7 linked regions of the Homo sapiens genome follow. The protein of the gene in region 2 purifies or fractionates together with the protein of the main gene of each other region. This does not show direct contact. Each region holds a gene or a part of one and is shown on either strand. Other genes may lie near its edges.

Region 1 (4,467 bases), on a different chromosome or scaffold from region 2:
TCGTTTGTCCAACTCTATGAAACTACCTGCAGAAGTTGTTGGACCATTCTTGGTAGAGGCTTAGCACGGGATCCACTCTCTGTTTAGCAAGGGATAAAAGTCAGTATTAACAACATGTGAACATAGAATTTATGCAGCACTGGTCAGGATGACAAATGTTCACTTGCCATTTGAAATGCCAGATGTATTTTACACTGACACTGATATACATGGACTTTATTTTAAAGCCACTGAATTATGAAGAAAACCGTCAAGTGAACCTGGAAATTGGAGTAAACAATGAAGCGCCATTTGCTAGAGATATTCCCAGAGTGACAGCCTTGAACAGAGCCTTGGTTACAGTTCATGTGAGGGATCTGGATGAGGGGCCTGAATGCACTCCTGCAGCCCAATATGTGCGGATTAAAGAAAACTTAGCAGTGGGGTCAAAGATCAACGGCTATAAGGCATATGACCCCGAAAATAGAAATGGCAATGGTTTAAGGTAAAAATAAATCTATAACCACATACTAATAATGTATTTGTAATCATTGAGATAGTAACTTATTTGAAAACATTTTCTGATGCTAAAGACTATTTTTTTTTTATTAACAGGTACAAAAAATTGCATGATCCTAAAGGTTGGATCACCATTGATGAAATTTCAGGGTCAATCATAACTTCCAAAATCCTGGATAGGGAGGTTGAAACTCCCAAAAATGAGTTGTATAATATTACAGTCCTGGCAATAGACAAAGGTAAAAAAAAAGTTTTAATCTGGTATTCTATAAAGGAATTAGAGAATAAAATGTAATTATTCTTATGCAGATTTATTTTGGTGGTAAGTGTATGGAATTCTTTGAAATTACTTTAAAGACTCTTTCTGTCTCTCTTAATTATCTAACAAGGTGAAACTGTTTGGTGACAAGAAGCCGTGTTTTATTTATCTTTATATCCCCAATAGGGCAGGACCTTAAATTCTTATGTATTTCTATGCTAGAGGACAAAAATAAAACTGAAATCTAAAACTAGATAAAATGGTCTCATCAGACTCTTCCACATCCGTTTGTGTCACTTTAAATTGAGCTTTTATATAGTTCAGCTGCATATTAGGTCAAAATGATCCTTTTCTTGAATTCTGTTCCTTAAAGTAACCTAGAGTTTTTCAACCTTGTCTTCACATTAAAATAAAAATATTAATCTGTAGATACTTTGTTAGACTAACTGAATCAGAATATCCGGTTGTGGAGCCTAGGAATCTTATATTTTAAAAAAATCTTCCTAGTGGTTTGAATATATACTGGGATTAGAAATCTTATCTGTAACCACTTTACTGCTTACTAACATGTGGCACCTGGAACCCCCAAAAATAGAGATTGAAATTCAGACATTTATTTTTATTTGGTAGTAATTCTGGTAAAAGATTTATTGACAGTTGTATCTGATATTATCAGTAGCAATAGTCATTTCAAATTAGCTGCAGATTCTATTTATCTGTCTATGTTCTTATTTATTTATCATTTCCTTTAATAATCAGTTTATTTAAAAACAGATCATGTATAGAATATAATTGACTTTTTATTCTTTAAGAAACTATGAAAGAATTTTAAAATAACACTAAACCTTATTCCTGTCTCCTTAGATGATAGATCATGTACTGGAACACTTGCTGTGAACATTGAAGATGTAAATGATAATCCACCAGAAATACTTCAAGAATATGTAGTCATTTGCAAACCAAAAATGGGGTATACCGACATTTTAGCTGTTGATCCTGATGAACCTGTCCATGGAGCTCCATTTTATTTCAGTTTGCCCAATACTTCTCCAGAAATCAGTAGACTGTGGAGCCTCACCAAAGTTAATGGTATTTAATAAAAAATAATGATTTATAAACTCTGAAATAACAGAATAACTGGAGGATAGATTGACTTGCTTACTTACACAAAGCATGAAGTAAAACTGAGTCTCATTAATATATTTTAGAAGGATAAACTAACCTTTTACAAATATTATATGGGGGCTCTGTTATATATAAAATGAAGGAAGATGTAATTTTTATGAAGGCAACATTTACATTTACAACAAAGGAAAGCTTTGTTAAAATGTTGGGCAGCTTATCATTAAGACAAACTTTGTGTGTGTGTGTGCATGTTTTTAAAAATAATGCCAATGGCTGGGCATGGTGACTCATGCCTGTAATCCCAGCACTTTGGGAGGCCTAGGTGGGTGGATCACTTGAGGTCAGGAGTTCAAGACCAGCCTGGCCAACATGGTGAAACCCCATCTCTGTTAAAAATACATAAATTAGCTGGGCGTGGTGGCAGGCACCTGTAATCCAAGCTACTGGGGAGGCTGAGGCAGCAGAATCACTTAAACCAGTAGGTGGAAGTTGCAGTGAGCTGAGAGATGGTGCCACTGCACTCCAGCCTGGGGGACAGAGGGAGACTCCGTCTCAAAATAATAATAATAATAATAATACCAGCGAGGTGAGGAGAGAGCAGAAGATGTGTAGTTTAAATTGTATTGTAAGCTGACTCTGGAAGTGAGGAACTCAGGTGTATAGACCAAGCACTCTAGGGTATCCTGGAAGTGAACCTGGCGGGATATAGCAAGGGATATGGGAAGGAGTATTGAGGGGCTGCTGCCTATTGTAGCAGTTTCTGGGGGCTGTCATGTTCTGTACTTCATCCATACTTCATTCTGTTGTTACTGCCATGTTCTTTCATGCAACTGGGCTTTTGTGTATATAGCCATATCTACATAGAATACCTCCTTTTCCATTTCTTAGCTTGATATTTATGAGCATGATATTTTTTTCATGATATTTATGAACATCTACTATCTATTAAGCACTCGTCCAGATCCTGAGGATTTATATAGAGATGAACAAGACAGACACAATCCCAGCTGAGATGCTCCACCTCTGAAGTTTGTCTTGAATTGGAAGGAGTGGCACCATGACCCTTCGCTACCTGCATTGCAGTGCCTTTCCTGTTGTATTAACATCTGATTACTTCTCCCTTCCAATACATGAGTTTCCTAGAATGTTTGCAATTCATCTTTGTACTTCCAGCACCTAGCCTAATGCTTAGTAGATACTAACTGCTTCATAAATGTTTGCTTGTTCAATAATTGATTAATAATGTGCATAAAAGAAGAAACATACCAGGAGAATAAGTATATCCATGTCATTAGAGTTTAGAAGGTTTTAGTAAGAATGCCAAGAGGTTGGGTGGAAGGAAGGGTAGCATCTGGTGGTGAAGGGCCTTGTGTGCCAGGCTGAGGGGACTAACCTTGGTACAGTAGGCAACAGCAATTATGCATTGGGAATGTGCAAATAAGGCAATGCCATTCCCAGATTTACATCTTTTAAAGGTGACACTGTTGACAGGAGGACAATATGAAGGGGGCAGAGTTGAGTGAAGAAAAATCAGAGGCCAATGCACTACTGTGAATAACTGAGACATGACAATGGCTCCACTTGTTGTCTTGAGGGAGCGGAGAGATTTCAAGGATCTTACCTTAGACACAGTGTGGTCTTGAAGGGTCCTAAGTAAACCCAAGTGGTAATTCATATTCCTCTAGGGAGCCTTCAGGTATGAGGTGCAGCCAAAATCTTTGAAATTCTTACAGCTACAGCAGAGCATTTAATCAAGGCTTAGGAATTCCAGATGACTTCCAGGGTGTGTATTATGCTACTTTTTCATTTTACTTAGTCTATTATAAAAGCTCAGGGAGGCTGTAACTGCCATTGAAATTCTGTGGAGCTTTTGGTTAGTTGACAATATGGTCATTAAAATAATAGATCAAGACTATTGGGGAAAATTGACTATCAGAGTTGATAAAAGTGAATTGTTATATAGATATTTCTGTTTTGTGTAAGCCTTATAAGTAGCCTGAGTGACATTAATTAGCTTCTGGTACTAAGATTACTTCCAGATGCAAAGGTGTTAATCGTAAACAATCTATTGTGCTTTGAAAAATTACCTTATCCATATGAATAGTGCGCAAATACTAGAAGGTCAATGGATAAGAAACGTAAACTTCAGAAACTATTTGTGTGTACCTGTAGATACATTGGTACTAAAGAAAAATGCTTGAAGTGTATGTTAACAGCCAACCTAACAGTATTAGTTTGTATAGATAAACATTACTGGAATACTACTGGGCTACTCCAATGCCAAATTATTTCTTTAGGGCTCCCTTCTAAGGAATTACAAGGGACAACACATATAAGATAACAGTAGAGTTTGAAAGGGTTGAAGACAGTCCTCCATTTTTATTTATTTTCATCTGGCAGGCAGTTCCTTGAGAATGACGCCTTCAAAAACAAGCGTGATGAAACAAATGCTAAGGGAAGAATAAATGATCATTAAAAAATAAACTTCTTTTATTTTCTTTCAGATACAGCTGCCCGTCTTTCATATCAGAAAAATGCTGGATTTCAAGAATATACCATTCCTATTACTGTAAAAGACAGGGCCG
Region 2 (4,467 bases):
GATTAATCATTTTCTTTTTAGCAGCTAGAAATTGTAGACATTTAATGGATATACCTACATCAGTCAATTTAATGAGTCTCATCGTCTGGGATTTGAAATATACCGATCACTCTAATGTTAAAATGTAATTGACATTCATCCTTATTTCAGGTTTCCAAGTTTTCCAACTTTGTCCCTCCTGCCTGCCTGAGAAGGGTAATTTAGTTTAAGCTTAAAAAAAACAGTTGTTCAGTACCTGGGAAGTCAAGTGGATCTACTGGGTAATGTGCACAGAGGTTAAACAATCTTTGTGTCATTTACTACAGTACACCTTCAGCAAATCACTTAGCTTCAGTTTCTTTTACAGGGACTATTTTGTCATCTTAGTAGGAATTGTTCCATGGAAGGATCATGCTGGTTAATATTACCCAGGCGTGTCTCTGGCAGCCTTACAGTTGGAAAGAATGGGATGCTGATGTGGCTGTGGCATCTGTCCCTGGGTCAAGAGCCAGGGCCTCCATCCTCCTTCAGAGGCTAAGCACACGGCCAAAGGGGTGGCCTTCCAGATAAAGGAGACCCAGTCAGTTGTCAAATACAGTTACCAGAAAGTAAGTGCACTCAAACCTGAGTTATAATTAATGGTTTTTTGTTTTATGTTTTGTTTCAGTTGTTTGAATTTATGAACTTTTTGGCGGAGAACGTCATCTTCTGTTACATGGGCCTGGCACTGTTCACGTTCCAGAATCATATCTTTAATGCTCTTTTTATACTTGGAGCCTTTGTATCCTTTGAAATACAGAACATGGGGTGATTAGAGAAGATAACGAATGACTTACTTTTACGAATTATTCTGTTAAATCATTAAAGCACTTTCCTAAAGTCCACTGCAAGGCTCAGACACAAGGCAGATACGTGATTTCTAGTTAGGGGAGGAAAACATCCTAAGAAATTAGGACCTCCATTAAATAATTATGGTTCAAGATAAGAACTTTGGAAAGAACTGTGGAAATAAAGAGGGAAATTAAAGGAAAATCTATTTTTCAAGCATTCAAAATATGTTTAACTATAATTATGAATCATTTACATAAAAATTATGTCTGTGTATTCTTTATAGAGAAACAGACTTAATCTGCATTAGAGTATATCAGGAAGCATCCAGGATTATTCAGCTTTGGAAATGTTTTCATTGCAAGATGATAAAATCTCTTTTCCAATACGGACTTCAAAAATAGGATAGATGATCAAATGAAATTAGCATGATGCATGTGCTTTCAACATCATAAGCATTGTTCAAATACAGGTTCATCTGAATAAGATAGCACCCTTCCTTTCCTATGAAGACAGATGAAATCTAGACCCCACTTTTAATGCAGGGGGTTTTCCTAGCTCTAGGCCTGGGACAGGAGGTGTTTCCAGTGGGAATGGATATCTATCTGAAAGGATGTTGAGCCATTAGGAATGTCCCCAAAGGCAGTCAGCAACTGTTGTCCTTCTTCCCACTTGGAAGATGGGCAGATGCCACCTTGGATCACAGATAATCCGAACAGCCAGCAGAGGCAATCCCTCTCTATAAACTGTGTTCCAATTAAACATCTGCATTTGCTTCTTAGTCTCTTTTCATTGAGCATTCAGCTGAACCCTAAAATTTCATCCAAAACCTGGATTTTAAAAGGAAGTTAACTCTTGCCAAATAACTCCGTCCCATTGAGGACAAACTAGAATAGCCCATCGGGGAAGGAGTCAAAGACAACAAAAAGGGAAAGATGAAGAGCGCCAATATTTTCAAAGACTTTTACTTATAAACTTTTATTTTAGGAAATTGCCAGATAAAGCAACAGTTGTATTATGTAATTAGACAGGTAATTCCTCTCAAAATTAATTCACCAAAGAAAAAGGTATGCAAAGCTTGCTAGATATAGGAAATATAAACTGATAAGAAGGAAGATGGTAAACATGAACAGAAGCACATTTATCCTTTCTAAAGTACCACTTGGGAAGATAATGCCACAGCATCTGAATGGTCTCTGCCTCACATTTTACAGCAGAATTGAGGATAGTCAGTCATCAGCAATATAAATGTGATTAGAAAATTTACAGTGATTGAATTGGTATTGGGCTAACAATTTTAAAGCAAGTATCAAAGAAAGGCAGAGTTCTCTATTATTTCTGGGAAGAACTTGACTTTGAAATATAAATTTTGGAAGCAAGTTGGACAAATGTGAATTGACATGTTTATTTCTGGTTTTGGGGTCATAATGAAGAGAAGCTTGAGGACATAATATTTAAGCTCAAGGATTCAAACCATCATTGCAGCAACACTTTCCTCAATGTTTCCCTGTGCTTATCTACAGCTAGCAATTTTTGTTGCCAGAGCCTGCAACATATATCCCCTCTCCTTCCTCCTGAATCTAGGCCGAAAACAGAAGATCCCCTGGAACTTTCAGCACATGATGATGTTTTCAGGTATGTGAACTATGTTATATGTTAGTGCTGCTGGTTTTCTCACAATTTTACAGAACATGAAAAACCATGAGAAAATTTAGAACCCTTTTGGGGAAACAACTTCTCTTTATCCCATTGTACCTAACACTATGCTGATTCTCCGTAAGTGCTGAGCAACAGCAGGATTTCTCTTTCCAAGTGGGAAATGAAGTTAGAGGGAATCTTATTGGTATGGCTTCAAGGTATCATATCTGGTCAGAAACTGGCCTAGAGTGGACATTGGACTTTCCTCTGACCCATTTCAGATCAATTTTTCATACTGGGGAATTTGAATTATAATTTCATAAATTGCATGCTCAGGGTAAATAGTGTGTAAATGGTGCCACTCTTATCCAATGCCCCTTATCCAGTGTTCCTTCTCCATAAAATCCCTGCTCCTTCCTTATGCAAAGCTCCAGAAACTCCTCACAGTTAATACAAAAGCAAATCAGACCTAAGTATGCTCAGTTGTTAGTTGAGAAAACGAATATTAATTGAGCACTCACCAGGTGCCTGAGATGAGTTCTGGGCACTGATTGATGAAACTGACAAGGTCTCTGTTCTCAAGACATTTGTGTTCTAATTGCTTAAACCATACCTCAAGGCTCCTTTCCAAAAGAAAATAAACCAAATGAATTTTCTGACCTTGAAAGCTCTGGAGATTATGGTTTATCTTTAGTCAATTAATTTTCCTACCTTCAGTCTTTCCCTGTTCAAAGACCTTTTGCAGAGATCCTTACGTGATTCCTATGTAGCTGTACACTTACAATGTACTCAGAGGCAGTTATTGGGGGATACATGAGAGTTTACAATAAAACCTGCTATCAGCATGAACAAATACAATTTAGGGTACATAGGGGCATATAGAAAAAGTGAGAGAAATGAACATTTATTAGCACTTGCTATTTGCCACTCACTATTTTTTAATTAATCCTGTGAAGCAAGTATTAACACATTTTGTAGATGAAGAAACTGAGGTTCAGGATCTCAAAAAGGTTATGAAACTTGGTCAAGAACAAATGTATTCTTGAACCCAGGTCTGTGAGATTCCACCTAAACCCAACCAAGTGTCTCAAAATCCACATTTCTGAAAGCAGTAAAAGGCTTGTTTTGCCTTCAGTGCCATCCTAGCCTGGTCCATACGGTAAAAGGGGCAGCTCCCAAGCTGAGAGTGAGTCATTGATTCAAATACAGACAAATGGAGATACAAAATTAAATTTGCCCTACTGAAGGCCTCTGACAGTACTTCCTTACATTTCCAGACATGTTAGGGTAAGAGAGAGAGAGTCATAAGGAAGGTGAGAAGTTGGAGTGGTAGGTGATTTTTTTTTTTTTTTTTTTTTGAGACGGAGTCTCGCTCTGTCGCCCAGGCTGGAGTGCAGTGGTGTGATCTCGGCTCACTGCAAGCTCTGCCCCCCAGGTTCATGTCATTCTTCTGCCTCAGCCTCCTGAGTAGCTGGGACTACAGGCGCCTGCCACCACGCCCGGCTAATTTTTTGTATTTTTAGTAGAGACGGGGTTTCACCGTGTTAGCCAGGATGGTCTCGATCTCCTGACCTTGTGATCCACCCGCCCCGGCCTCCCAAAGTGCTGGGATTACAGGCTTGAGCCACCACACCCGGCCAAGTGGTAGGTGATTTTTGACTTAGAACAGTAATAAACTTTGGCAATGAGTTGACTTTTATTATGAGAAAGCAAAAGGTAAACTTGAGCACTCATAAATGGGAAGCCAGCATTGGGTTGCATTTTTTCAAAACGTTTCTGGGAATTGGAAAGCACTTTTCCTTCTTTCCCATCAAAACATCAGTAACTTTACTCTGGAGAATAGCAGCTTATTTTCAAAGCTTCAATATTACATTTTAAACATTGCTTTATTTGACAAACAATGCTTTGAGAAAAATATAAGGCCTTAGATAATCATGTTAGGTTGTGAAGTGTCTGCCCAAATGGCCACCTGTCTTGATGGTTTCTCCAGGCTTTCGCACCTTCTAAGTTTGTTTAACGGTA
Region 3 (4,467 bases), about 16 Mb from region 2:
GGCTGGGCTCAGTGGCGCACGCCTGTAATGCCAGCACTTTGGGAGGCCTAGGAGGGCAGATCACTTGAGGTCACGAGTTCAAAACCAGCCTGACCAACATGGCGAAACCCTGTCTGTACTAAAAATACAAAAATTAGCCAGGCGTGGTGGTGGGCACCTGTAATGCCAGCTACTTGGGGGGCTGAGGCAGGAGAATCACTTGAACCTGGGAGGCGGAGATTGCAGTGAGCCAAGATTGCACCACTGTACTCCAGCCTGGGCGACAGAGCAAGACTCCATCTCAAAAAAAATAAAAAATAAAAAAACTAAAGACTATGTTCAGGATACTGTATTGCTGAAATACAAATGATATTCATAATGCAGTTTTGGAGAAATTTCAGCCAAGGATGGAAGCCTGGGGAACACTGTGTTCGTCCAATCATACTGCTAGGTCCTTAAAAGCATGGGCCCTGTCTTCACTTCAGTTTGTAGCTCCAACACCCAGTACAATTGCCAACAGAGAGAGGGTACTCAGGAGGCATTTTCTGAGTGACCACATGCGCAGTGGAACACTGACTCAGTGATTCCTCTCTCTCCCCTGCCTGTCTCCATCTGTCTCCCCTTGCCCCTGCCATAGGGAAGTCTAAGCAATTTGGCCTTTTTGAAATGAAAATAGTGTCTCAGAATCCCCGCAAAGCCTCTGGGTTTTCAGGAGTGTCCACTGAAGTCCCCCCTTCCCCAGGACCTTTGTCATTTGAGACATGCTCTAACCTGGCACCAGTCTTGTGTCTTCTCTAGCCTCCCCTGACTGTCTGGCTTTTATGTCTGCACAGGAGCGTTCCTGGGTGCCTGTGTGGCTGGGTCTGATGAGCCTGGCCCAGAGGGCCTCACCTCCACCTCCCTGCTAGACCTCCTGCTGCCCACTGGCTTGGAGCCACTGGACTCAGAGGAGCCTAGTGAGACCATGGGCCTGGGAGCTGGGCTGGGAGCCCCTGGCTCAGGCTTCCCCAGCGAAGAGAATGAAGAGTCTCGGATTCTGCAGCCACCACAGTACTTCTGGGAAGAGGAGGAAGAGCTGAATGACTCAAGTCTGGACCTGGGACCCACTGCAGGTAGCTCTTCTTACCTACAGAGCATGTGTTGAGTGCCAGCCAAGTGTCTAGGCAAAACACCAGGTGACCATTTCCTTGCCAGAAGCATCTCTTCTCTCTCCCTACAGTTTTTACCATGCTGCTGCTGTTTACCTGCACATCAGAGCAAAGGCTCTGGGACCCTGAATGTCTCACAGGCCCAGGAGGCCCTTTCTCTTTAATACTAACCACTGTTTAGGGAGCCTTTATTCTGTGCTCATTTAATTCAATCTGATGCTTATAACCTGAGAGATAAGTAATATGACCCCCCTTGTAGACAAGAAAACACTGAGACTGAGAGGTTAAAAGCTGGCCTGAGGTCAAACAGCAGCTCAGATGCTCAGTCATGATTCAGACCTATGGCTTTCCAAGCCCTGGGGCTCATTGTTTTGTTTTTCCCTACTGCTCTATGCTGTCTCTGTTGAAGATTGCCACAAGGTCAGCTGATCCATGTTTCCTTGAGTCTATCCGACCAGCAATTGAGGCATTCTAACCGCCCTTCCCTCAGTCATGCACCAGAGCTAGAGCTGGTGTTTGGATCTACAGAGCCCAGCTGGTGAACATTTGGGTCCCGAAGAAAGCCCGAGGCCTAGGGCTCCAGGTTTGAATGCCCACCGCCATGAGCTGACATTGATACAGATGCAGGCATGGCCCCTCCACCAATGTCCTGGGCCAGCAGGGCCCCATCTCTTAGTAGGGACTGAGGAATTGGTGTGATTGTGTGTGCACATGGGGCAAGGTGTTACAGAACTTAACCTTTAATTTTTCTTTTTAAAATAGGTAATATTTATTGGATTTACCTTTTCTAATTATAAAAGAACACATGAACATTGTAGAAAATCTGAAACACACAAAAATAATACAAAGAAGAAAATAAGGCTGGGTGTGGTGGCTCACGTCTGTAATCCCAGCACTTTGGGAGGCTGAGGCGGGTGGATCACTTGGGGTCAGGAGTTTGAGAACAGCCTGGCCAACATGGTGAAACCCTGTCTCCACTAAAAATACAAAAATTAGCTGGACATGATTGCGGGCATCTGTAATCCCATCTACTCAGGAGGCTGAGGCAGGAGAATGGCTTGAACCCGGGAGGTGGAGGTTGCAGTGAGCTGAGATCGCACCACTGCTCTCCAGCCTGGGCGACAAGAACAAAACTCTATCTCAAAAAAAAATAAAATAAAATAAAAAATAAAAACTACCTATAACCTGATAATTGAAAGATAATTACTATTAGTAGTTTGGGGATACATTGTTCTAGTCACTTTATGTGCAAAATTGGAATCATAGGGACATTTTGTTTTCACTCAAAATATTTCATAAGTATATTTCCGCATTGTTAAATATCCATTTATAACCTGATTTTTAAACATGTTATTATTTATTTATTTTTTTGAGATGGAGTCTTGCTCTGTCACCTGGGCTAGAGTGCAGTGGCGTGACCTTGGCTCACTGTAACCTTCATTTCCTGAGTTCAAGTGATTCTCCTGCCTCAGCCTCCGAGTAGCTGGGATTACAGGCATGCGCCATCACACCCAGCTAATTTTTGTATTTTTAGTAAAGACAGGGTTTCACCATGTTGGCCAGGCTGGTCTCTAACTCCTGACCTCAAGTGATCTGCCCGTCTCGGCCTCCCAAAGTGCTGGGATTACAGGTCTGAGCCACCGCACCCGGACAACATGTTATTATTTATTTATTTATGTTTAGAGTTGAGGTTTTGCTCCATTGTTCAGGTGTGATCATAGTTCACTGTAACCTCGAACTCCTGGGCTCAAGCGATCCTCCCACCTCAGCCTCGTAGGTAGCAGGGACCAAAAATGTGCCACCATGCCTGACTAATTTTTTCATTTTTTTGTAGTGATGGGGTCTTGCTATGTTGCCCAGGCTGGTCTTGAACTCCTGGGCTCAAGCGATCCTCCTCCCTTGGCCTCCCAAAGTGCTAAGATTATAGCTGTGAACCACTGTGCCTGGCTTATAACTTGATTTTTTTTTCTTGAGACGGAGTTTTGCTCTTGTTGCCCAGGCTGGAGTGCAGTGGTGCCATCTTGGCTCACCACAACCTCCGCCTCCCAGGTTCAAGCGGTTGTCCTGCCTCAGCCTCCTGAGTAGCTGGGATCATAGGCATGTGCCACCATGCCCGAATAATTTTGTATTTTTTTTAGTAGAGACAGGGTTTCTCCATGTTGGTCAGGCTAGTCTCGAACTCCTGACCTCAGGTGATGTGCCCACCTCGGCCTCCCAAAGTGCTGGGATTACAGGCATGAGCCACCGTGCCCAGCCCTGATTTTTAACAACTACGTTATATTTCATCATGTGGGTCATCAGGTGTATTAAACTGGTTCCCTACTGTTGAATACTTAGGTTGTCTTCAGTTTTAATTCTGCTACAAATATCCTTACACATTTTCGCACCTTCCTGGTGGTTTCCTTAGGATAAATTTCTAGAATAAAATTGATAGGTCAAAAGATGTATTAGGGCCGGGCACGTGGCTCACGCCTGTGATTCCGGCACTTTGGGAGTTCGAGGTGGGCAGATCATGAGGTCCGGAGTTCGAGACCAGCCTGGCCAACATGGTGTAACTCCGTCTCTACTAAAAATACAAAAATTAGCCAGGTGTGGTGGCGGACGCCTGTGAACCTAGCTACTCAGGAGGCTGAGGCAGGAGAGTTGCTTGAACCTGGGAGGTGGAGGTTGCAGTGAGCTGAGATTGCACCACTGCACTCCAGCCTGGGGGACAGAGCGAGACTCCATCTCAGAAAAAAAAAAAAAAAAAGATGTATCAGTCAGCATCCCACGCGGAAACAGAAGACACAATCAAATTAAAACAATCTAAGGAGAGTTTGTTTATGAAGCAGCAGATTTATGAAGGTATGGGCTGGATACAGGTGAACTACCAAAGGACTCACAAGTCCTTTGGCTAAGGATCTGTGGCTAGCAACAGCTGAGTGCTTACCATCTCTAGGCACAGTGAGACCAGGGAAGGGATGAAGATGGGAGCCTGCAGGGAAAGTGGTGTAGAGAGGTGGCCAGATATGGGAGGAGACGAAGAGAATGAACGCCGCACCCCCCACCAAGTGTTCTCTCTTTCCCTTGTCAGTTTGATAGGAAAAATTATAATGGCCTTTGATTACTAGTATATTTTAACTCATATATGTACAAAACATATGTGTACGTTCATTATATACAGAATATGTGTATTCTATAGAATATACATATACACAAAAATAGTGACCACTTATCACTCTTCTTTTTTATTTGAAGCACAGTGTAGTTAAGAGAACAGGCTTTGGAGTCAGGAAGGCTCCAGTGCTGTCATTTAACAGTGATGCAATTTTTGGCGAGTAACTAACCCTAAGCCTCAGTT
Region 4 (4,467 bases), on a different chromosome or scaffold from region 2:
AGAGGTGTCAGCTAGGTTTGAATGCTGGCACAGCAGCTCAGGAGCTCCCATCCTGCAAGTTACATAACCTCCCAAGCCATGATTTTCTCATCTGTAAAATGGAATAACAACAGTACCTCCCCCAAGGTTGTGGGGAATACACAGAAACAGCCGTGCTGTGCCCAGCACTTGGGAAAATAGCAGTGGCTGATCCTAGGATAGTAATATTCCTTCCCCTTCTACATGCACTCACCAAGCCAGAACCGGACACCTACTCCATGCCAGCCACTGTGCTGGGTTCTCAGGGTCTAAGGAGCTGAAAGTAGTACCCCCTTCTGCCTCTATAACCCCTCAAGAGCATGGGACGGCGTGGCTCTTTTGTTAGGCTCACTGCCTGATTTCTGTTGGAAACACTCCCCTGCTTTCCCTGGGACCTGGCTTATCCATAACTAAGGCCTCCTCCCACCCCATCTGTTCCCCTCTGCTCACCTACTTCTCTACCCACTCAAAACAAAGCCTCTTTCTCTAGTGCCCCCCACCCCTCACATCCCCTGGCTCCACTGGGGTCAAGCCTCAGAAGGCAAACCCACTCCCCTGTCACCCAGGTGAAGCGGACCCTCTTCATCAATGGAATCTCCAAATATGCAGAGTCAGAAAAGATCAAGAAGCATTTTGAGTGAGTAAGCCACGCTTCCCCCTACCCTCAAGCCCTGCTGCAGAGCCTTCTCTGCCTTTGAACTCTAAGAACATCCTTATACCCTAGCCTGGAGCTCTGCCGTGGGTGGGATAGAGATTAGATCCAGGAAGAAATGTCCGATTCCAGGGTGGTTTAGCACTTGGGTCGGGTGATAGGCCCCTTTAAGAACAGGAAAAATAAGACAAAAACCTGAAGAGTGAGTCATTCAAACCCCCTAACCCCCAAACCTCCTCCTGGCTCAGACTGGGTCATAGGTTGTTGACCCAGGTCCATTGGAGTACATATCTTCTTCAAAATTAAAAGCAGCATTCTGGAGTTTGTGTGCAGCCATGACAGGGAGAAGCTCCTTGGTTTCCAGTGGATTCCAAGGAGTCCAGGAGAACTTGAACTGTGTATTCTCTGAGGCTTTTTCAGCTCTAGAATTATGTTTTGGGGTGGGTAGAGCAGACCTATGGCCAGAAACTAGAGAAAAGGGAGGTGGTATAATGAGGCAAAGAGGGAACTTACCTGGTCACCCCATGGCTAGGGATGCACCTTGGGGCGCAGCTCATAGGGTGGGGAATCAGTGAAGGGCCCCTCCATGGGGGTGTGTAGGGACAGTCTCTATACCACAGGATTAGGGCTACTCTCACACAGGCATCTGTTCACTCAGCAAACTTTCTCAAGTGCTGTTAGTCATAAGTTACTGTGGTGGGCTTTGGGACTGTAAAAAATGAATGAGGCCAGGCATGGTGGCTCATGGCTGTAATCCCAGCACTTTGGGAGGCCAAAGTGGGCAGATCACTTGAGCCCAGGAGTTGAAGACCAGCCTGGGCAACATAGCAAGACCCCATCTCTACCAAAAAATACAAACTTAGCCAGGTGTGGTGGCGTGCGCCTGTAGTCCCAGCTACTTGGGAGGCTGAGGTGGGAGGATCGCTTGAACCCAGGAGGTCGAGGCTGCAGTGAGTCCTGTGCACCACTGCACTCCAGCCTGGGTGACAGAGCAAGACCCTGTTTCAAATGTTTCAAAAAATAAAAAATAGAAGAGGCCAGGCACGGTGGCTCACGCCTGTAATCCCAACACTTTGGGAGGCCCAAGATGGGAGAATTACTTGAGGCCAGGAGTTCAAGACCAGCCTGGTCAGTATAATGAGACCCCATGTCTTAAAAAAAAAAAAAAAAAAAATCATTGAGGGCCGGGAGTTTGAGACCAGCCTGGCCAATATGGTGAAACCCCGTCTCTACTGGTGAAACCTTGTCTCTACTGAAAATACAAAAATTAGCCAGGCATGGTGGCGCGTACCAGTAGTCTCAGCTACTCAGGAGGCTGAGGCAGAAGAATCGCTTGAACCCAGGAGGCAGAGGTTGCAGTGAGCCGAGATTGTGCCACTGCACTTCAGCCTGAGCGGCAGAGCGAGACTGTCTCAAAAAAAGAAAAAAAAATCATTGAGTTCTCAGGGGGTTCATAGTATGGCAGTCGGCTTTAGGAGCTAGTCCAGGGTCTGATCAGAGATTGCTCTGAGGTCAGTCTGTGGTCAGAATCAGGAGCTGGCCAGTGGTCATGATAAAGGATGCTGGTGGTCTGGATCATGGCCCAGACTGAGGTTGAGATTTGGGCTCAGTCTACCATCAGAATCAGGGTTTAGGCCAGGTGTGGTGGCTCATGCCTGTAATCCCCTTGAGAAGATTGCTTGAGCCCGGGAGTTTAAGACCAGCCTGGACAACATGTCGAAACTCCATCTCTACAAAAAATATAAAAATTAGCCAGACATGGTAGCATGCACCAATAGTCCCAACTACTCAGGTGACTGAGGTGGGAGGATGGCTTGAGCCCAAGAGGCTAATGCTGTGGTGAACTGATTGCGCCACTGTACTCCAGCCTGGGTAATAGGGCAAGACCCTGTCTCAAAAAAGAAAGAAAGTAAAGAATCAAGGTTTAATCTGAGGTCCAGACCTGTCAGTTGGCCAGAATCAGAGTTCACTCATTGTCCTGGGTCAGGCCAGTGTGTGATCCAATCAGAGATAGTGTTTGGGCAGGATTGAGAGTGAACATCTATCTGGTCAGGGTCAGATTCCAGAGCCTGTGTTAGAAGATTAAGGACTGGTGTGTGATCAGCATTAGTAGATGGATACTCTTTCATACTACATGCAGTTATTGACAACCTTCTATGTGCCAGGCACAAATAAATTAGAAACAAGCCCAGCCCTTATACAGGCTATAAAACAGCAGTCAAAATTAGATCATTCTTGTCAGTATGAGAGAACTATTTGGGGTCCTATCTGAGGTTCAAGCTGTCATCAGCATTAAAGGGCACTCTGGGTCAGGATTAAGGACAGTGTGTACTCAGAATTAGTGACATCTTTTTTTTTTCTCATACCATCTTTTGTAACAATGAATTAGGTGACATCTTAATATTACCATCCAGTTGGAATCAGTTGTCAGCTTGTATTGAAATCTGGTGTTTGTTGTTTTTGTTTTTGTTTTTGTTTTTTGATACAAATATCTAGTGAGCACCTGCTATGTGCCTGCTTGGGGAGGAGCTGGGGGTATAGCAGTAAACGACAGAAGGCCTGCCCTCATTTGCTTTCATTTTAGTGGGGAGGGGTGGACAGGGACCGGATGAACTAGTAATAGAGACTGTGTCAAGAAGAGGTAGGTGCTAAGAAAACCACAGCAGGGAAGCAGGCAGGGTAAGAGGGGTTGGGAAGGGTTGCTATTTCTGATGGGATAGACAGGGAGGGACTCTGACAGCGTGGCATTTGAACAGAGACCTGAGTGAACCCTACTAGTCAACTGTCTATTCATTCAGCCCACATTTATTGTATACCTACTATGTGCTTCATGCCTGGGAGACAGAGTATAATCAGACCTGATCAGTGCCCTTGGGAAGCTGAAGATCCTAGTTGTGTTTCAGGGGTTGGTCTATAGTTTTGTTTAGGAGAGGTCAGCCTATAAGCAGGGGTAAGGGAGACTCTAGTCCTAATTGGAGTTTTTTGGATCACTGGGATGAGCATTATGGAGTAGCCATTTCATTGATCCGCTCATTTACCACATGTGTATTGAACACCTGCTATATACAAGCTGTTGGGACAGGGCTGGGTATATGGTGAGGACTAAGAGACAGCGCTTGAGCTCATTGTCAGGATTAGGCAGGGCTTGTGGTCCAAGTCTGCAGTCTGTCTGGATTGGAAGACTGTCTCAGCACAATTAGGAAATATCTTGCATGCAAATCAACGGGCCTGTGTGGTTGGATTTAGAGGATTAGAGATGAGTTTAGTGAGAATGAGAGCTCACCCTTCCAAAGGGGAAACCTCAAATGGTTTGAGGAACAATATCAGAGGAAAGGTCTCTAGCCTCCTGGGAAGTACATCTCAAGGACCCTATCCCAGATTTAAGTTTCTAAATTCTCATGGGTTTATGAGGACTATCTTAATACTTTAGAACAGTAACTCATGCATTCAATACTTGGTGGTCCTTCATTTAAAAAAAAAAACAATTTTTTTTGAGACAGAGTCTCACTCTGTCTCCCTGGCTGGAGTGCTGCAATACAGGGGCGTGGTCATAGCTCACTGCAGCCTTGACCTCCTGGGCTGAATCGATCCTCCTGCCTCAGACTCCCGAGTAGCTGGAACTACAGGCACTCACCACCACACCTGGCTAATTTTTTTTTCTTTTTTTAGAGACAGGGTCTCACTATGTTGCCCAGGCTGGTCATGAACTCCTGGCCTCAAGCAATCCTCCTGTCTCAGCCTCTCAAAGTTTTGGGATTACAGGCATGAGCCACTGTGTTCAACCTAAAAATTTTAAT
Region 5 (4,467 bases), on a different chromosome or scaffold from region 2:
GATTGAAATATTTTTCTGCTCCCGAGGGCTAGTTTTTCTCTTTAAAAAGGGGTGGAATTGTGTAATTCCTATATAGTAACAACACAGAAGATGTAGTGACTCTGGTGTGGATATAAATTATATTACTATACACAGGAAGTTTCACTATAAAAACTCACTAGTGCAAGCTGAGTATGATAGCAATCAAGATAAATACTAACAATTATTTAAATACTCTCAGGGTCATTAAGAAATCAAAAGACATGGCAAAGGAAGCAGTTGGAGGCCAAGCAGAAGACCACTTGAAACTCAAAGATGGGCAGCAACAAAATGAGACTAAAAAGAAGAAAGGATGGCTGGATCAGGAAGACCAGGAAGCACCACTGCAGGTTTGCTGACTTGACACTTTATCAGGGGATGAGAACCAGATTATAAAGTTCAGATGGAACCCAGAGCAAAAATCTCTGTCTCTGAGAAAGAAGACATGAGCAGATTCTCTGGCTGCATTTTATTTTTTATTTTATTTATTTATTTATTAATTTTGAGATGGAGTTTCACTCTTCTCAGCCAGGCTGGAGTGCAATGGCACAATCTTGGCTCACTGCAACCTCTGCCTCCCAGGTTCAAGCCATTCTCCTGCCTCAGCCTCCCAAGTAGCTGGGATTACAGGCATCTGACACCACGCTCAGCTCAGTTTTGTATTTTTGGTAGAGATGGGGTTTTACCATGTTGGCCAGGCTGGTCTTGAACTCCTGACCTCAGGTGATCCGCCCGCCTCAGCTTCCCAAAGTGCTAGGATTACAGGTGTAAGCCACTGCGCCCAACCTCTGGCTGCATTTTTATGTTACAGTCTCTATTACCCAGTACCACTGCAGGTCATTGTCAGCCACCCTCAGAAAACCATAGAATGTTTTCCTAGTGAAATAAGCAGAAAACAGCAAATTGTAGATTAGTAGTCCTTAATTTGAAATCCAAATTGCTTTAACAGATTCCACATCCTACATTGGTTTCCCCCATCTTGCATTCTGTGGTACCATATACAACTCCATCAACTGGACCTTACACCCCTGTAACAGATAAGATAAACCATACATACTTCTACAAGTTTAAAATCATTAACTGAAGAATGTCTCATCTATCTAAAGTCAAGTCACTGGGTAAATAAATGCCCAAACTGAGCTCAGACTATACTCAGTTTGAATTATTACCATAGCCCAATTTATATTTCCAGTTTTTAGTGTATTATTCACCAGCATTGGTCATATGTTTTATATATGATTGTTTATGCTTGCATTTCTCAGGAGGGTGCCTTCAAGAATCCTCTCAGTGCTTTTGAGAAATGTCAGGCTGTTGGCTCCTGTTACTGTGTTAATGGATAGCTCCACAGTCACATACTTTGAATTAGGATGGTGTGATGTTCATAACAATGACCCTGTGGTCCTGAATCCTCAGGATAACATTTAGCCTAGCTTTGTGCATTCTAACTAGTGCTTTGAAAATTGACAATCCGCAAATATCATGATATAGGAACCCTCATTCAAAAGGTTACACTCTTTTGTTATACTAGATAACATTTACCATTGAAATTTTTAAACTAGAGTTCTCTGATGTCACTCAGGTATCTTGAGATTGAATGATATTTTTATGCAAATTTCCTAGAAAGGGGACGCCAAAATAAAAGCTCAAGAGGAAGCTGACAAACGCAAGAAAGAACACGAGAGAATTATGTTACAAAATTTACAAGAACGGTTAGAAAGGAAAAAGGTACTCGCTCTCTGTTTGGGGGGACTTGATTCTGTGTTTAAAACAATGTTGGGCACCTGATATCAGCATGTTTTTAAAAATCACAAATCTGATATATGCTAGTTCCTGGTGGTTTTCCCACTCGATTCTCTTCCTTATCCAAGGATCTGACTTCTCCTACATAGAGGGCTGTCCTCTTACTGATCATGCCTCCCTCTCATGGACCCTTGGTGGCCATTGGCCATTACAGTGATGCCTCACTATATCAAACCTCTGGTAACAAAACTTCTCTGAGCAGAAGGACTCCAGTCATGGTAGGGGTTGGTAGAAGTTAAGACTTTCTTCTAAACTGGCTGGAAATTGCAGCAACTACATGGGGAGAAGCACAAACTGTAGGCCTCTTTGAGAGGCCAAGGTGCAGGCTATTTTTAAGGTAGGGCCACATGTGAGCTCATCTGCAGCCCTGGTCCAGGCTGAGTTGCTGCAAGGCCTATCTGGTAGTAGATTGGTCACCTTGAGGGGGCCAGGGAGCTGCAACTCTCCTCACTGCAGGGAAAGAAGTGTGCACAGGAGAGAGAATTCCTGTCCTTCCCTAGAAATATATTTCTCCTCCACCTCCTATCTTCTCTCTTCATTAACACAAAACAGTGTGGCATCATTGAGGTGTATTATTTTCATTAACATTGGCTTCAGGAATCAGCTGAAGACTAAAGACTAAAATTATGTTAAAAGCTCTAATTGGTTCGCAATAATATATGCTTAGTCTAATGAATTTCTGCATATGCAAAATTAGGAGTGAGATGTTGTCATTTGAATGTTTGTGTTATAACAAATACAGCGGTCATCATTCAGGGCATTTTATAGCTGAAACTGGGATTGGGATAGGGGACTCAACTGCCACCGTAAGCCTTTTGTTGGTAATATTTGTGGTTTTGGAGCAATCACTGCCATTGTGCACCTCTGTGAAATGGGGATAATCAACTCCTTTAGGACAACTGTTTGGTTTCTAATCTGTTTTCATGTTTGAATTTTTATTTTCCTTTAAATAGAGAATAGAAGAAATTATGAAGCGGACAAGAAAGACAGATGTGAATGCCTCAAAGGTAGTCTCCATACTCCTACCAGCAGTGTATAAGAATGCCTCTTGTTTCACATTATTGCCGAGTTTTTCACTTTACCCAATCTGGTGGTAATGAAATAAAGTATTACATTTGCATTTCCCTGATTATCAACAAGGTTGACCATGTTTTCATATCTTTAGTTAGCTCTCATATTTCTTTTGTGTGAAATGTTTTTTTTTATCTTTTGCCCAAGACTTTTGGGTTGATTTGTCTCATTGTGGTTCTTTAAATGTTATAGATACTGCTTCTTTTTTGGTTATGTGTTGCAGATACCTTCTCCCAGTTTACAGCTTATCTTTTCTTTTTCTTTTTTTCTTTTTTTTTTTTGTATACAATGTGTAATGATCAAATCAGGATAATTAGCAAATCCATCACCTCAAACGCTGATCATTTCTCTCTTTTTTTTTTTGAGACAGAGTCCCGCTCTGTCACCCAGGCCAGAGTGTAGTGGTGTGATCTCGGCTCACTGCAACCTCCACCTCCTGGGTTCAAGTGATTCTCCTGCCTCAGCCTCCTGAGTAACTGGGATTACAGGCATGCACCACCATGCCTAGCTATTTTTGTATTACTATTAGAGACAGGGTTTCAACATGTTGGCCAGACTGGTCTCGAAATCCTGACCTTAGGTTATCCACCTGCCTTAGCCTCCCAAAGTGCTAGGATTACAGGTGTGAGCCACCATGCCCAGCCAGTTTATCTTTTCTTAATGTTGTCTTCTTCTGGATAGAAGCTTTTTTTTTTTTTTTTTTTTTTTTTGAGATAAGAGTCTTGCTCTGTCACCCAGGCAGGAACACAGTGGCGCAATCATGGCTCACTGCAGCCTCCACCTCCCAAGCTCAAGCAATCCACCCATCTCACCCTTCCAAGTAGCTGAGACTACAGGTGCATGCCACCACACCTGGCTAATTTTTTATTTTTTATTTATTTATTTTTTTGTAGAAACAGGATTTTGCCATGTTGTCTAGGCTGGCCTTGAACTCCTGGGCTCAAGTGATGCACCCGCTTCAGCCACCCAAAGTGCTGGGATTGCAGGCTTGAGCCACCACACCCTGCATTCTGATTTTAATGTTCTTGAATTTACCAGTATTTTCTGATGACTAATGAAGTTAGGCACCTTTTCATAAATGCTTAGTGGCCTGTTGGAGATTTGCTTTGGTGAAGTACCTTTTCAAGTCATTTGCCCATTTTCCTATTTTGTCACCTGCCTTTTTCTGATTGAATTGTAGGTATTTTTACCTACACTGGTTAGGAGTCCTTTGGATATATATATTGCAGGTATCTTCTTCCATGCCATAGTTTGCCTCACACTCTCCTAATGTCTATTGATGAACCAGACAGAAGTTCTTCATTTTAACAAGTTCAAATTTATCATTTTTTCCCTTATGGTGAGTGTCTTTGTGGTCTGTTTCATCATTATTTGCTTACCCCAATGTCATGTCTTTTGATGGAGCACATGTATTCAAGGCCTTTTTCCTCCAGATTCTGTGCTTTTTACATTCTATGCTACAAGACTGATATTTTGTCTGTTTGTAATTACCCAGTTGTGGTCATTTGCATTAAATGACATGAGAATTTAGAGTAGAAATGCCATTTTCAAAAAGCGCTGGGAGTCATCATGTCAAAG
Region 6 (4,467 bases), on a different chromosome or scaffold from region 2:
AATGGCAGCACTTTGGGAGGCCAAGGCGGGTGGATCACCTGAGGTCGGGAGTTGGAGACCAGCCCAACCAACATGGAGAAACCCCATCTCTACTAAAAATACAAAATTAGCCAGGCGTGGTGGTGCATGCCTGTAATCCCAACTACTCGGAAGGCTGAGGCAGGAGAATCGCTTGAACCTGGGAGGCAGAGGTTGTGGCAGGCCAAGATTGCACCATTGCACTCCAGCCTGGGCAACAAGAGCAAAACTAGGTCTCAAAATATATATGTGTATATGTATATATTTATTAAGAGAAGAAATACCTCAATTTTAATCAATTATTACTGTCTTACAAAAATATTCTCCAACAGTCTTACTGACTATATGAGAATACTGTTGTTATTTATACTTTTTTCATTTGTTGCCTTGAATTTACTTAGAGAAGAGTAGTACATTTAAATTAAAGAGTTCATACAGTTTGCTCAAGATTTTTTAAATTATGCCTCTAATGTTAGTCTGTCACTCAGGGTATTTCTATATTGTTACTGTTTAAATTTATGGACTAAAACGAAAGAGGCTAGCCTCTAAGAAAGAAGAGCGTTTTGAACCCTGTAATGTCTGTTATTCCTTTTTGCTACCTTCAGTAAATTTTAGTGCCCTTAGTTTTTGCTTCTCAAAATCACCCATCTCTGTCTGGGCATCTCCTGCAGTGCACAGAGCAGCACAGTGGATAGTTTGGAGTTTCAGTGAGTGCTGCTTTACACCACACTCTTTGTTGAGACAGTGTCTTGCTTTTTTGCCCAGGCTGGAGTGCAGTGGCACATTCATAGCTCACTGCAGCGTCTACCTCTACCTCTACCTCCTGGGCTCAAGCGATCTTCCCACCTCAGCCTCCCAAAGTGTTGGGATTACAGGCATGAGCCACTGCACCCAGTCTACACCATTCTCTTGTCTTGCACATATAAACGATGTTTTTTACTGTTGGTGAACATTGTGATTACACTCCTACCTAATTCTAAGGGAGACATCATGAACTTGCATTTTAGTTTTTTGCTCAAATTTGTCATAGTATTGTTATTTTTTAATTGTAATAGACATACTTGCCAAATACTCAAAGGTATCACTTACCACTGCAGACTTAAATATAAAACAAAAGCTAATTGTCCAGTTATACCTGGAAGTTATTTTTTATTTATTTATTTTTTTGAGACAGAGTCTCACTCTATTGCCCAGGCTGAAGTGCAGTGGCAAGATCTCGGCTCACTGCAACCTGTGCCTCCCAGGTTCAAGCGATTCTCATGCATCAGCCTCCAGAGTGGCTGGGATTACAGGCATGTGCCACCACACCCGGCTAATTTTTGTATTTTTAGAAGAGATGGGGTTTCACAGTGTTGGCTAGGCTGGTCTCGAACTCCTGACCTCAGGTGATCCACCCGCCTTGGCCTCCCAAAGTGCTGGGATTACAGGTGTGAGCCACCGCACCCAGCCATGGAAGTTATTTTTTACCTATTTTTCACCTAAGAAGGATGGCAGAGAAAAGGGATGGGACACCTGCCCTTTGACCACCCAGCCATGACCTTATTACAAGTGAGTTCTGGAGGATGTCTGCAGATGGGCTGTGAGATTGAAAGCTGCAGCCATGGCTGTGTCCATGCTGTAGTTTAGAACTGAAGTTTAGCTTTTTTTCTTTTGGTCTGTTTATTTGCTGCCAGCCAAAATTCTGCTTTTTATAGTACATCCACAACTGTACTTTCTAAATACAGCTTTCGAACACTTTTAACTACTCTATTATGAGGGGAGTTTAATATAATAGGATTTCCATTGAGCTAAAAATTATGTTTTCCTTTTTATTTCTTTTTTAAATTCTTTTTTTAATTTATTTGAGCTAAAATTATATACTTTATTTGCAGAACTGCTGGCTTTTAAAAAATATCCTGAAGATGGTATTGATCTTGCTAATTGATGTTTTGTGCACACACCTGCACATGTGTGGGGGAGCAGAGCATACTATTTCGTCTTAAATGGTATAAAATCTCAACCAATAATGTGATTCAACAATTACCATTTCTTTTTAACTCGAATCCTAAGACAAATTATATATATATATATTTTAAACTCTAATAACAGTTACCATTAATTGCTGTAACTCAATTAGATAGGATATTTTGAAGGTGGAATGTATTAGTCTACACATACCACTGATTTGATTTCTCTTCCAGCCATTGGATTTAATGTAGAGACGGTGACGTACAAAAACCTTAAATTCCAAGTCTGGGATTTAGGAGGACAGACAAGTATCAGGTATGGTACAAAGACCAGGTTATTTGGTAGTATTTGACATTTATTGATTCTTTTAAGGGTTAAAATCAGTAAACCCGAATATGTGTTCTATTGTAATTTAAATGGAGCCACCTAGTTTAAAATGAGGTAAAATTGGGAACTATTTCCTTAGAGCATCCATTGAGTTAAAACTTAAGGAAGCCCAGTTTTCCAGATACCTGTTTAATGAAAATCTTTTCACGAAAATCTCAAGACCTTATTACTTCAGCTATTCTCAATTAGAAAGGACCCTCCATTTAGTTCTTGTCAGTCTCTCCTCTCTGAAACACATTGTTTTGGAATTCATTAAAGTACCTTGCAGGCATACCATTTAGGGCTAATATAAAAATAAATGCCATTGGCCGGGCATGGTAGCTCACGCCTGTAATCCCAGCACTTTGGGAGGCCGAGGTGGGCGGATCATCAGGTCAGGAGTTGGAGACCAGCCTGACCAACATGGTGAAACCTCGTCTCTACTAAAAATACAAAAATTAGCTGGGCATGGTGGTGCGTGCCTATAATTCCAGCTACCTGGGAGGCTGAGGCAGGAGAATTGCTTGTACCAGGACTTGGGAGCTGGAGGTTGCAGTGAGCTGAGATCGCGCAACTGCACTCCAGCCTGGGCTACAGAGCAAGACTCTGTCTCAAAAAAAATAAATGAATAAATAAAAAATAAATGCCTTCTGAAGTTCAGGTCTTCTGCTTAGCATTTTGGGCTTGACATGGCAACAGTGAATGTTTGATGACCGTCAGTAGTTGGTCACGATAGTACCATCTTAAAAGATTAGTAATGCATTCTCCAAACATTCTGACTTCTTTTAACTCATTTCTTGAATCACGTTTCTTTTTTTTTAAATTGTGCAGCCTCCCAAGCCAGAGTAGGCTCAGAGAGACTCCATTGAATCACTTTTGAGTTTATTTATAATTTTAGCCATTTCTACTGCTTGATGTCAGTGATTAATTTCATGACTGTTAAATAAAATCACGTTTAAAAAGTTTATTCCTCTTAAGGGGTGCCTAGTTAAAGATTTGTTTAAGAAGATGTAATGATCAGGTCTGTGTACAACTTTTCTATCAGTATATTTAGTGATTTCATAGATTATAAATAAATTTTGTCAGCCTGAAGTCTGAATGAATTCATTTGGAAACTCCCTGGTCCTGTGAGTCAATGTTTATCAACATTCTTTTTTTTTTTTTTTTTTTTTTTTTTGAGACAGAGTTTCACTCTTGTTGCCCAGGCTGGAGTGCAATGGCACCATCTCAGCTCACTGGAACCTCTGCCTTCCTGGTTGAAGTGATTTTCCTGCCTCAGCCTCCCGAGTAGCTGGGATTACAGGCACCTGCCACCATGTCCAGCTAATTTTGTATTTTTAGTAGAGATGGGGTTTCTCCATGTTGGTCAGGCTGGTCTCGAACTCCCGACCTCAGTTGATCTGCCCTCCTCAGCCTCCTAAAATGCTGGGATTACAGATGTGAGCCACCGTGCCCAGCCAATGTTTATCAACATTCTTTTGACTCCATCACATCTGAGGGATATGGTACATATATCCACCAGAAACAGTGAATCATTAAGGCATTGATTCTAACATGTGTGGGACAGAATTGGCAATTGATATGTCAGTTTCTTCCTTAAAACAATAACAATATGTTCTCCCCTTTTAAATTTTCTCTAGGCCATACTGGAGATGTTACTATTCAAACACAGATGCAGTCATTTATGTAGTAGACAGTTGTGACCGAGACCGAATTGGCATTTCCAAATCAGAGTTAGTTGCCATGTTGGAGGTAAGAAAACGTAACCACTTTAAAATGTGGGGCAGTCATTTACATATTATTACATTGAAGAATAATTAAAAAGAATGCAGGGGTTGTTCCCTCCATCCTTTTAAAATTATTTTCTTTTATGGAAATGATTTTCTATTCCAAAAATACAGTTGAGGAGGGTTGGAGACAAAACAACAACAAAAATTAACCTCGTAACTTCCTCTTCAAGCCAGATTGCTTGATTTTCCAGGAGGTTCAGAAGAGCTCACTTAAACAAAAGCATCTATTCTAAGTCACTTCTTTGATGTGACTTTTAAAATATGTCTTTTTATTTTTAGCTGTTTTAGAAGGATTCAAGTTCAGAGAAATATGTATTTCTGGGTTACTGGCACAATGCTGGCCTCA
Region 7 (4,467 bases), on a different chromosome or scaffold from region 2:
ACAGCCAATGAAGAAAAGGGAATTAGCACTTACGATCAGTGTTTACAAAATGACTGCAAAACTCATGTTTAAAATTTCTTCCACATGGATAAAAAATATCTAATTTAAATGTCAGAGTGCCACCTAAAGTAATTCAAGAGTACCACATTTACTATTTCTAACAAAGAATAAAGTTTCTTAGTATTTTATTCAAACACTACAGCCAGTTATATAATATTCACAAACACTCTTGGAAGCAGAAACTACGACTCCATTTTACTAGTGAGGAAGCTGAGATGCAGAAACAGGCTATGCAACAAGGCTCAAAGTCACAGTAAATGAGAGCGCCAGAAGTCAACCCTGGGTCTGTGACTCTACAATTCCTGCTTTTCTATCACTAGTACAAAATGCTTGCCCTACAAGTGCAGAGACAGCTTCTGAATGCTCAATTACTCATTCACCAAATCTTTGCTGAGTCCCTTCTAAAAGTTTGGTCTTCTTCTATGTGCTGGGGTATAATGGTAAATATTACAGGTTGGGCTGTCTGTCCATTCTGCTACTACGAGATACCACAAATGAGAAGAAACAGTTAAGGACAGTGATCTGGAGTAAGATATTTACTTCTTCTCTGAATTACGAAAGATTCTCTTTCATGGATTTACTGACTTCTACATGCTACTGAGTTTTAAATTATTATAAATACCAAAGCATTTTCTATTAAACATTCTCCTAAACATTTTCTATTAGGATACTAAAACTAAAAGCAAAGGTAAAAACCATCAAGTTTAGCTAGGCAATCTGAGCACAATTTTGGTCATCCAATACACAACAGCACCGCAATAGCTCTCTGGTGAATTGTCCTGATCTACTTTCATCAGAGACCTAACTGTACATGGTATTCCTGTCTTATTTTCTGTTTTCTTCAACTAGAAAGTAAGTTCTATGACAGCAGGGATCATATCTATTTTGTTCACTGCCGATCTGCAGTGTCTAAAACAGTGACTGGTACTAGGCACTAGGTACTATCAAATATGTGTTTAATTAATTCTTATCTCAACTATGTCCCTTAGCTGTGTAGCCATGGGCATACCATTTACCTTCTTTAGATCTTAAATTCCTCATTTGGCCAGGCGTGATGGCTCACACCTGTAATCCCAGCACTTTGGGAGGCCGAGGTGGGAGGATCACTTGAGGTCAGGACCAGCCTGGCCAACATGGCAAAACCCCATCTCTACTAAAAATACAAAAAAAAAATGGTTGGGCATGGTGGCTCATGCCTGTAATCTCAGCACTTTGGGAGGTCAAGGCGGATGGATCACCTGAGCTCATGAGTTCGAGACTAGCCTGATTAACATGGTGAAACCCCATCTCTACTAAAAGTACAAAATTAGTCGGGTGTGGTGGCGCATGCCTGTTATCCCAGTTACTCGGGAGGCAGAGGCAGGAAAATCACTTGAACCCAGAAAGCGGAGGTTGCAGTGAGCTGAGATGGTGCCGCTGCACTCCAGCCTGGATGACAGGGTAACACACCATCTCAAAAAATAAATGAATAAATAAATAAAATTTTAAAAAATAAAAAAATAAAATTCCTCATTTGTATATGTGGAGTTACATAAGGTAATCTCTTGAGGTTCATTCCAATTCTAGTACTCTTTTTAAAATAATGTACTATATCCTTTTCCTATCTAGCAGGAATTCAGTTTTTTAAGATTCTCAAATAAGCCCATAACCAAAATAAGAACTTTTTTTTTTTTTTTGAGACAATCTCGATCTGTCACCCAGGCTGGAGTGCCGTGGCACAATCATGGCTCACTGCAGCCTCAACCTCCCAGGCTCAAGCCGTCCTCCCACCTCAGCCTCTTGAGTAGTTGAGACCACTACACGCAGCTACTTTTAAAAAAATTTTTGTAGAGACAGGGTCTCACTTTGTTGCCCAAGCTGATCTTGAGCTCCTGGGCTCAAACGATCCTCCCAACTCAGTCTCCCAAAGTGTTGGGATTACAGGCATGAGCCACCATGTCTGGCCAAGAGCTACATTTTCTACAGAACTATATTAGTGAAAGAGACAGACATTCCAGAGGCAAAACAAATGTCCTATGATATAAAAAGGAATTTCAGATATATATGTCCACAGGGTTCCCAAATTTGCTGAGGGAAAAGCTGCTATAATTATACATGACATTTTAATCTAAAAGCTACTTTAGAATTTTTCTGAACAGACTCCTTGAAGTTCAGTAAATACATCTCCCTCACTTTTATCACTCACCTTGGATATACGAGTTGATACGCAAAGCCCCTCTCACTTTTTAAAAGGTGGAATTAATTTTGGAAAACTGCAGAAATTAGAATACCTATAAAGTTAAAGGAATGAAAGAAAATTAAAAACTACCTGTTGTCCCACTGAGAAGGCCTGGTTGTTGAATTGCTGAATAAATTCTGCTGCCATCTTGTCGGTGTCATAAGGGTTGGAGTCAATGCTTTTTTTCTGCAGGAAATCAATCTCGATGGTCATTGTGCCAATACACTGTTTGGCTTTGTCAAATGTATATAAGGAGACTAGGGGAAAAAAAGAAGCATTTTTTTAAAAATCACAGGAGTACAAAATACCTGTAGTGTTTCTAGTAACTAAAAGTTTCACATAAATGAATCATAAACTACTTCACCAAAAATGGGGTTTAAATGGCCTTCACTGGAGGGACACACAGGTACAGGTTTAAAAAATAATAGTCACTAGAGATTTTCTTCCCCATCTGAATTAATTAGAAATACTGAATGGCAGGCCGGGCGCGGTGGCTCACTCCTGTAATCCCAGCACGCTGGGAGGCCGAGGCGGGCGGATCACGAGGTCAGGAGATTGAGACCATCCTGGCTAACACAGTGAAACCCCGTCTCTACTAAAAATACAAAAAATTAGCCGGGCGTGGTGGCGGGCGCCTGTAGTCCCAGCTTCTTGGGAGGCTGAGGCAGGAGAATGGCGTGAACCTGGCAGGCGGAGCTTGCAGTGAGCCAAGATCACGCCACTGCACTCCAGCCTAGGGCAACAGAGCCAGACTCCGTCTCAAAAAAAAAGAAAGAAAGAAATATTGAACGGCAGTCTCTCTGTTGTTATCCCTCATCCCACTCTTATCAGGATCACAATCCTCCCCACATGGCCTCTGCATCTTTCTCCTCATTTAATGCAATACAGTATGGGATGCCCCAACACAGTTGGCATAACATGCTATTTCCAAATAAGATTTTTGTTTGACACAAAAAAACAGCTAAGGTGGGATGTGGATGAATTATTTTGGCCTAAGAAAGTAGGACGCAAGGCAAAAAAAAGAAGCTTGAAAAACAATGTTTACTAGCGGAATTTGCTCCAGAGCAAGTTAGAGTTTGACATTTCTTTTTTACTACTACAAAAATGTTTCCTGAGCACCTGCTACATCTAGGGAACTACAGTAAGTTCTACATGTACACATGTAGATAAGGGCAAGGACGAGGTTTTTAACTCCTCTTCCTATTAACAGCATCTAACAGTTTCTTTCAGGTGCTTAATATATTCATGAACTGTTTAAATGAAACAACAATAACAGAAAACCCATGGTCTCCATGCTAATAACAAAGGAGGCAATAAAGCATACATACAAAGCTTTGGATAAGAAAATTCCTGTTCAAGCCACATAAAAAGTTTTAAAATGAATTTTAGGTTACAATGTAATTAATATTAAAGTGTTACACATGATTTTACATCATGTAATAACTGTTCGACCAAAAACCTTTAATTGTACAACTACAACACAGTTTACATATCATATTTTTAGAAAAATATATGTTAAAACAAATTTTGCTAGTGACAGATAATTACAAAGAAGCATTTCCCTAGAAAAAAAAACTTGATTCTTAAATCAGCTCAAAAAGTATACTTATAAATGCCAGTTTATAAACAAACTTTTAAAGCAAAAAATTTTACAGTGCTGTATACTGTAGTGGTACTATTAGGAAAGAGTAGAGTAGGCTACCCAGAAAAGTTCAAGAGGATTTTTGCATTTGAGTTTCCCCAGGAGGGCAACTTGATTACGCCTAGTAAGAAAGAGTCTATTGCTACTCTTCAATAAGGCTTCACACACGAGCACACACACACACACACACACACACACACACACACACACACATTTATTTTCCCTTTAGGTTCCCTGAAGATACTTGTCCTAAAATTTACCAATGGCCCCTTAAGGATACAGTAGCAGCTCTCGTAAGCAACCTCCACTGAGCTGAGTCATCAGAAAGCTGACCAACTTTTATCCCTCCAACATATACCCATCAGCCTATGGTTTGCCTAACGCTCAGAGCTTGTAGACAGGAGTTGCTACACATCATGGGTCAACCAAGTTCATTCTGGTATCTGTCTGTGCTAGTTACACTTGTTACAGTTAATTATGAAATATAATTAAATAGTATAAAAACTTCTGAAGGCCTGGTTGTTGAACTGTTATTACAATGACTTTG

Evidence for each region.
Region 1: the proteins of SLC9A9 (region 2) and DSC3 purify together in Homo sapiens (affinity purification with mass spectrometry; one large-scale study listed by BioGRID and IntAct). This does not show direct contact.
Region 3: the proteins of SLC9A9 (region 2) and PODXL2 purify together in Homo sapiens (affinity purification with mass spectrometry; one large-scale study listed by BioGRID and IntAct). This does not show direct contact.
Region 4: the proteins of SLC9A9 (region 2) and TMEM63B purify together in Homo sapiens (affinity purification with mass spectrometry; one large-scale study listed by BioGRID and IntAct). This does not show direct contact.
Region 5: the proteins of SLC9A9 (region 2) and MAP7D3 purify together in Homo sapiens (affinity purification with mass spectrometry; one large-scale study listed by BioGRID and IntAct). This does not show direct contact.
Region 6: the proteins of SLC9A9 (region 2) and ARL1 purify together in Homo sapiens (affinity purification with mass spectrometry, with the first as the bait; one large-scale study listed by BioGRID). This does not show direct contact.
Region 7: the proteins of SLC9A9 (region 2) and NSF purify together in Homo sapiens (affinity purification with mass spectrometry; one large-scale study listed by BioGRID and IntAct). This does not show direct contact.

Annotation. Positions count from the first base shown.
Region 1 is NC_000018.10:31,004,286-31,008,752, reverse strand, and holds part of DSC3 (desmocollin-3 isoform Dsc3a preproprotein), read left to right. Parts: intron 1-227; coding exon 228-484; intron 485-594; coding exon 595-737; intron 738-1,621; coding exon 1,622-1,846; intron 1,847-4,386; coding exon 4,387-4,467. UniProt on the Homo sapiens protein: A component of desmosome cell-cell junctions which are required for positive regulation of cellular adhesion. Required for cell-cell adhesion in the epidermis, as a result required for the maintenance of the dermal cohesion and the dermal barrier function.
Region 2 is NC_000003.12:143,491,628-143,496,094, reverse strand, and holds part of SLC9A9 (sodium/hydrogen exchanger 9), read left to right. Parts: intron 1-646; coding exon 647-760; intron 761-2,330; coding exon 2,331-2,442; intron 2,443-4,467. UniProt on the Homo sapiens protein: Endosomal Na(+), K(+)/H(+) antiporter. Mediates the electroneutral exchange of endosomal luminal H(+) for a cytosolic Na(+) or K(+).
Region 3 is NC_000003.12:127,638,433-127,642,899, forward strand, and holds part of PODXL2 (podocalyxin-like protein 2 precursor), read left to right. Parts: intron 1-812; coding exon 813-1,091; intron 1,092-4,467. UniProt on the Homo sapiens protein: Acts as a ligand for vascular selectins. Mediates rapid rolling of leukocytes over vascular surfaces through high affinity divalent cation-dependent interactions with E-, P- and L-selectins.
Region 4 is NC_000006.12:44,140,444-44,144,910, forward strand, and holds part of TMEM63B (mechanosensitive cation channel TMEM63B), read left to right. Parts: intron 1-584; coding exon 585-655; intron 656-4,467. UniProt on the Homo sapiens protein: Mechanosensitive cation channel with low conductance and high activation threshold. Osmosensitive cation channel preferentially activated by hypotonic stress.
Region 5 is NC_000023.11:136,223,185-136,227,651, reverse strand, and holds part of MAP7D3 (MAP7 domain-containing protein 3), read left to right. Parts: intron 1-220; coding exon 221-368; intron 369-1,638; coding exon 1,639-1,743; intron 1,744-2,771; coding exon 2,772-2,825; intron 2,826-4,467. UniProt on the Homo sapiens protein: Promotes the assembly and stability of microtubules.
Region 6 is NC_000012.12:101,400,678-101,405,144, reverse strand, and holds part of ARL1 (ADP-ribosylation factor-like protein 1), read left to right. Parts: intron 1-2,198; coding exon 2,199-2,280; intron 2,281-3,971; coding exon 3,972-4,083; intron 4,084-4,467. UniProt on the Homo sapiens protein: GTP-binding protein that recruits several effectors, such as golgins, arfaptins and Arf-GEFs to the trans-Golgi network, and modulates their functions at the Golgi complex.
Region 7 is NC_000017.11:46,635,444-46,639,910, reverse strand, and holds part of NSF (vesicle-fusing ATPase), read right to left. Parts: intron 2,536-4,467; coding exon 2,369-2,535; intron 1-2,368.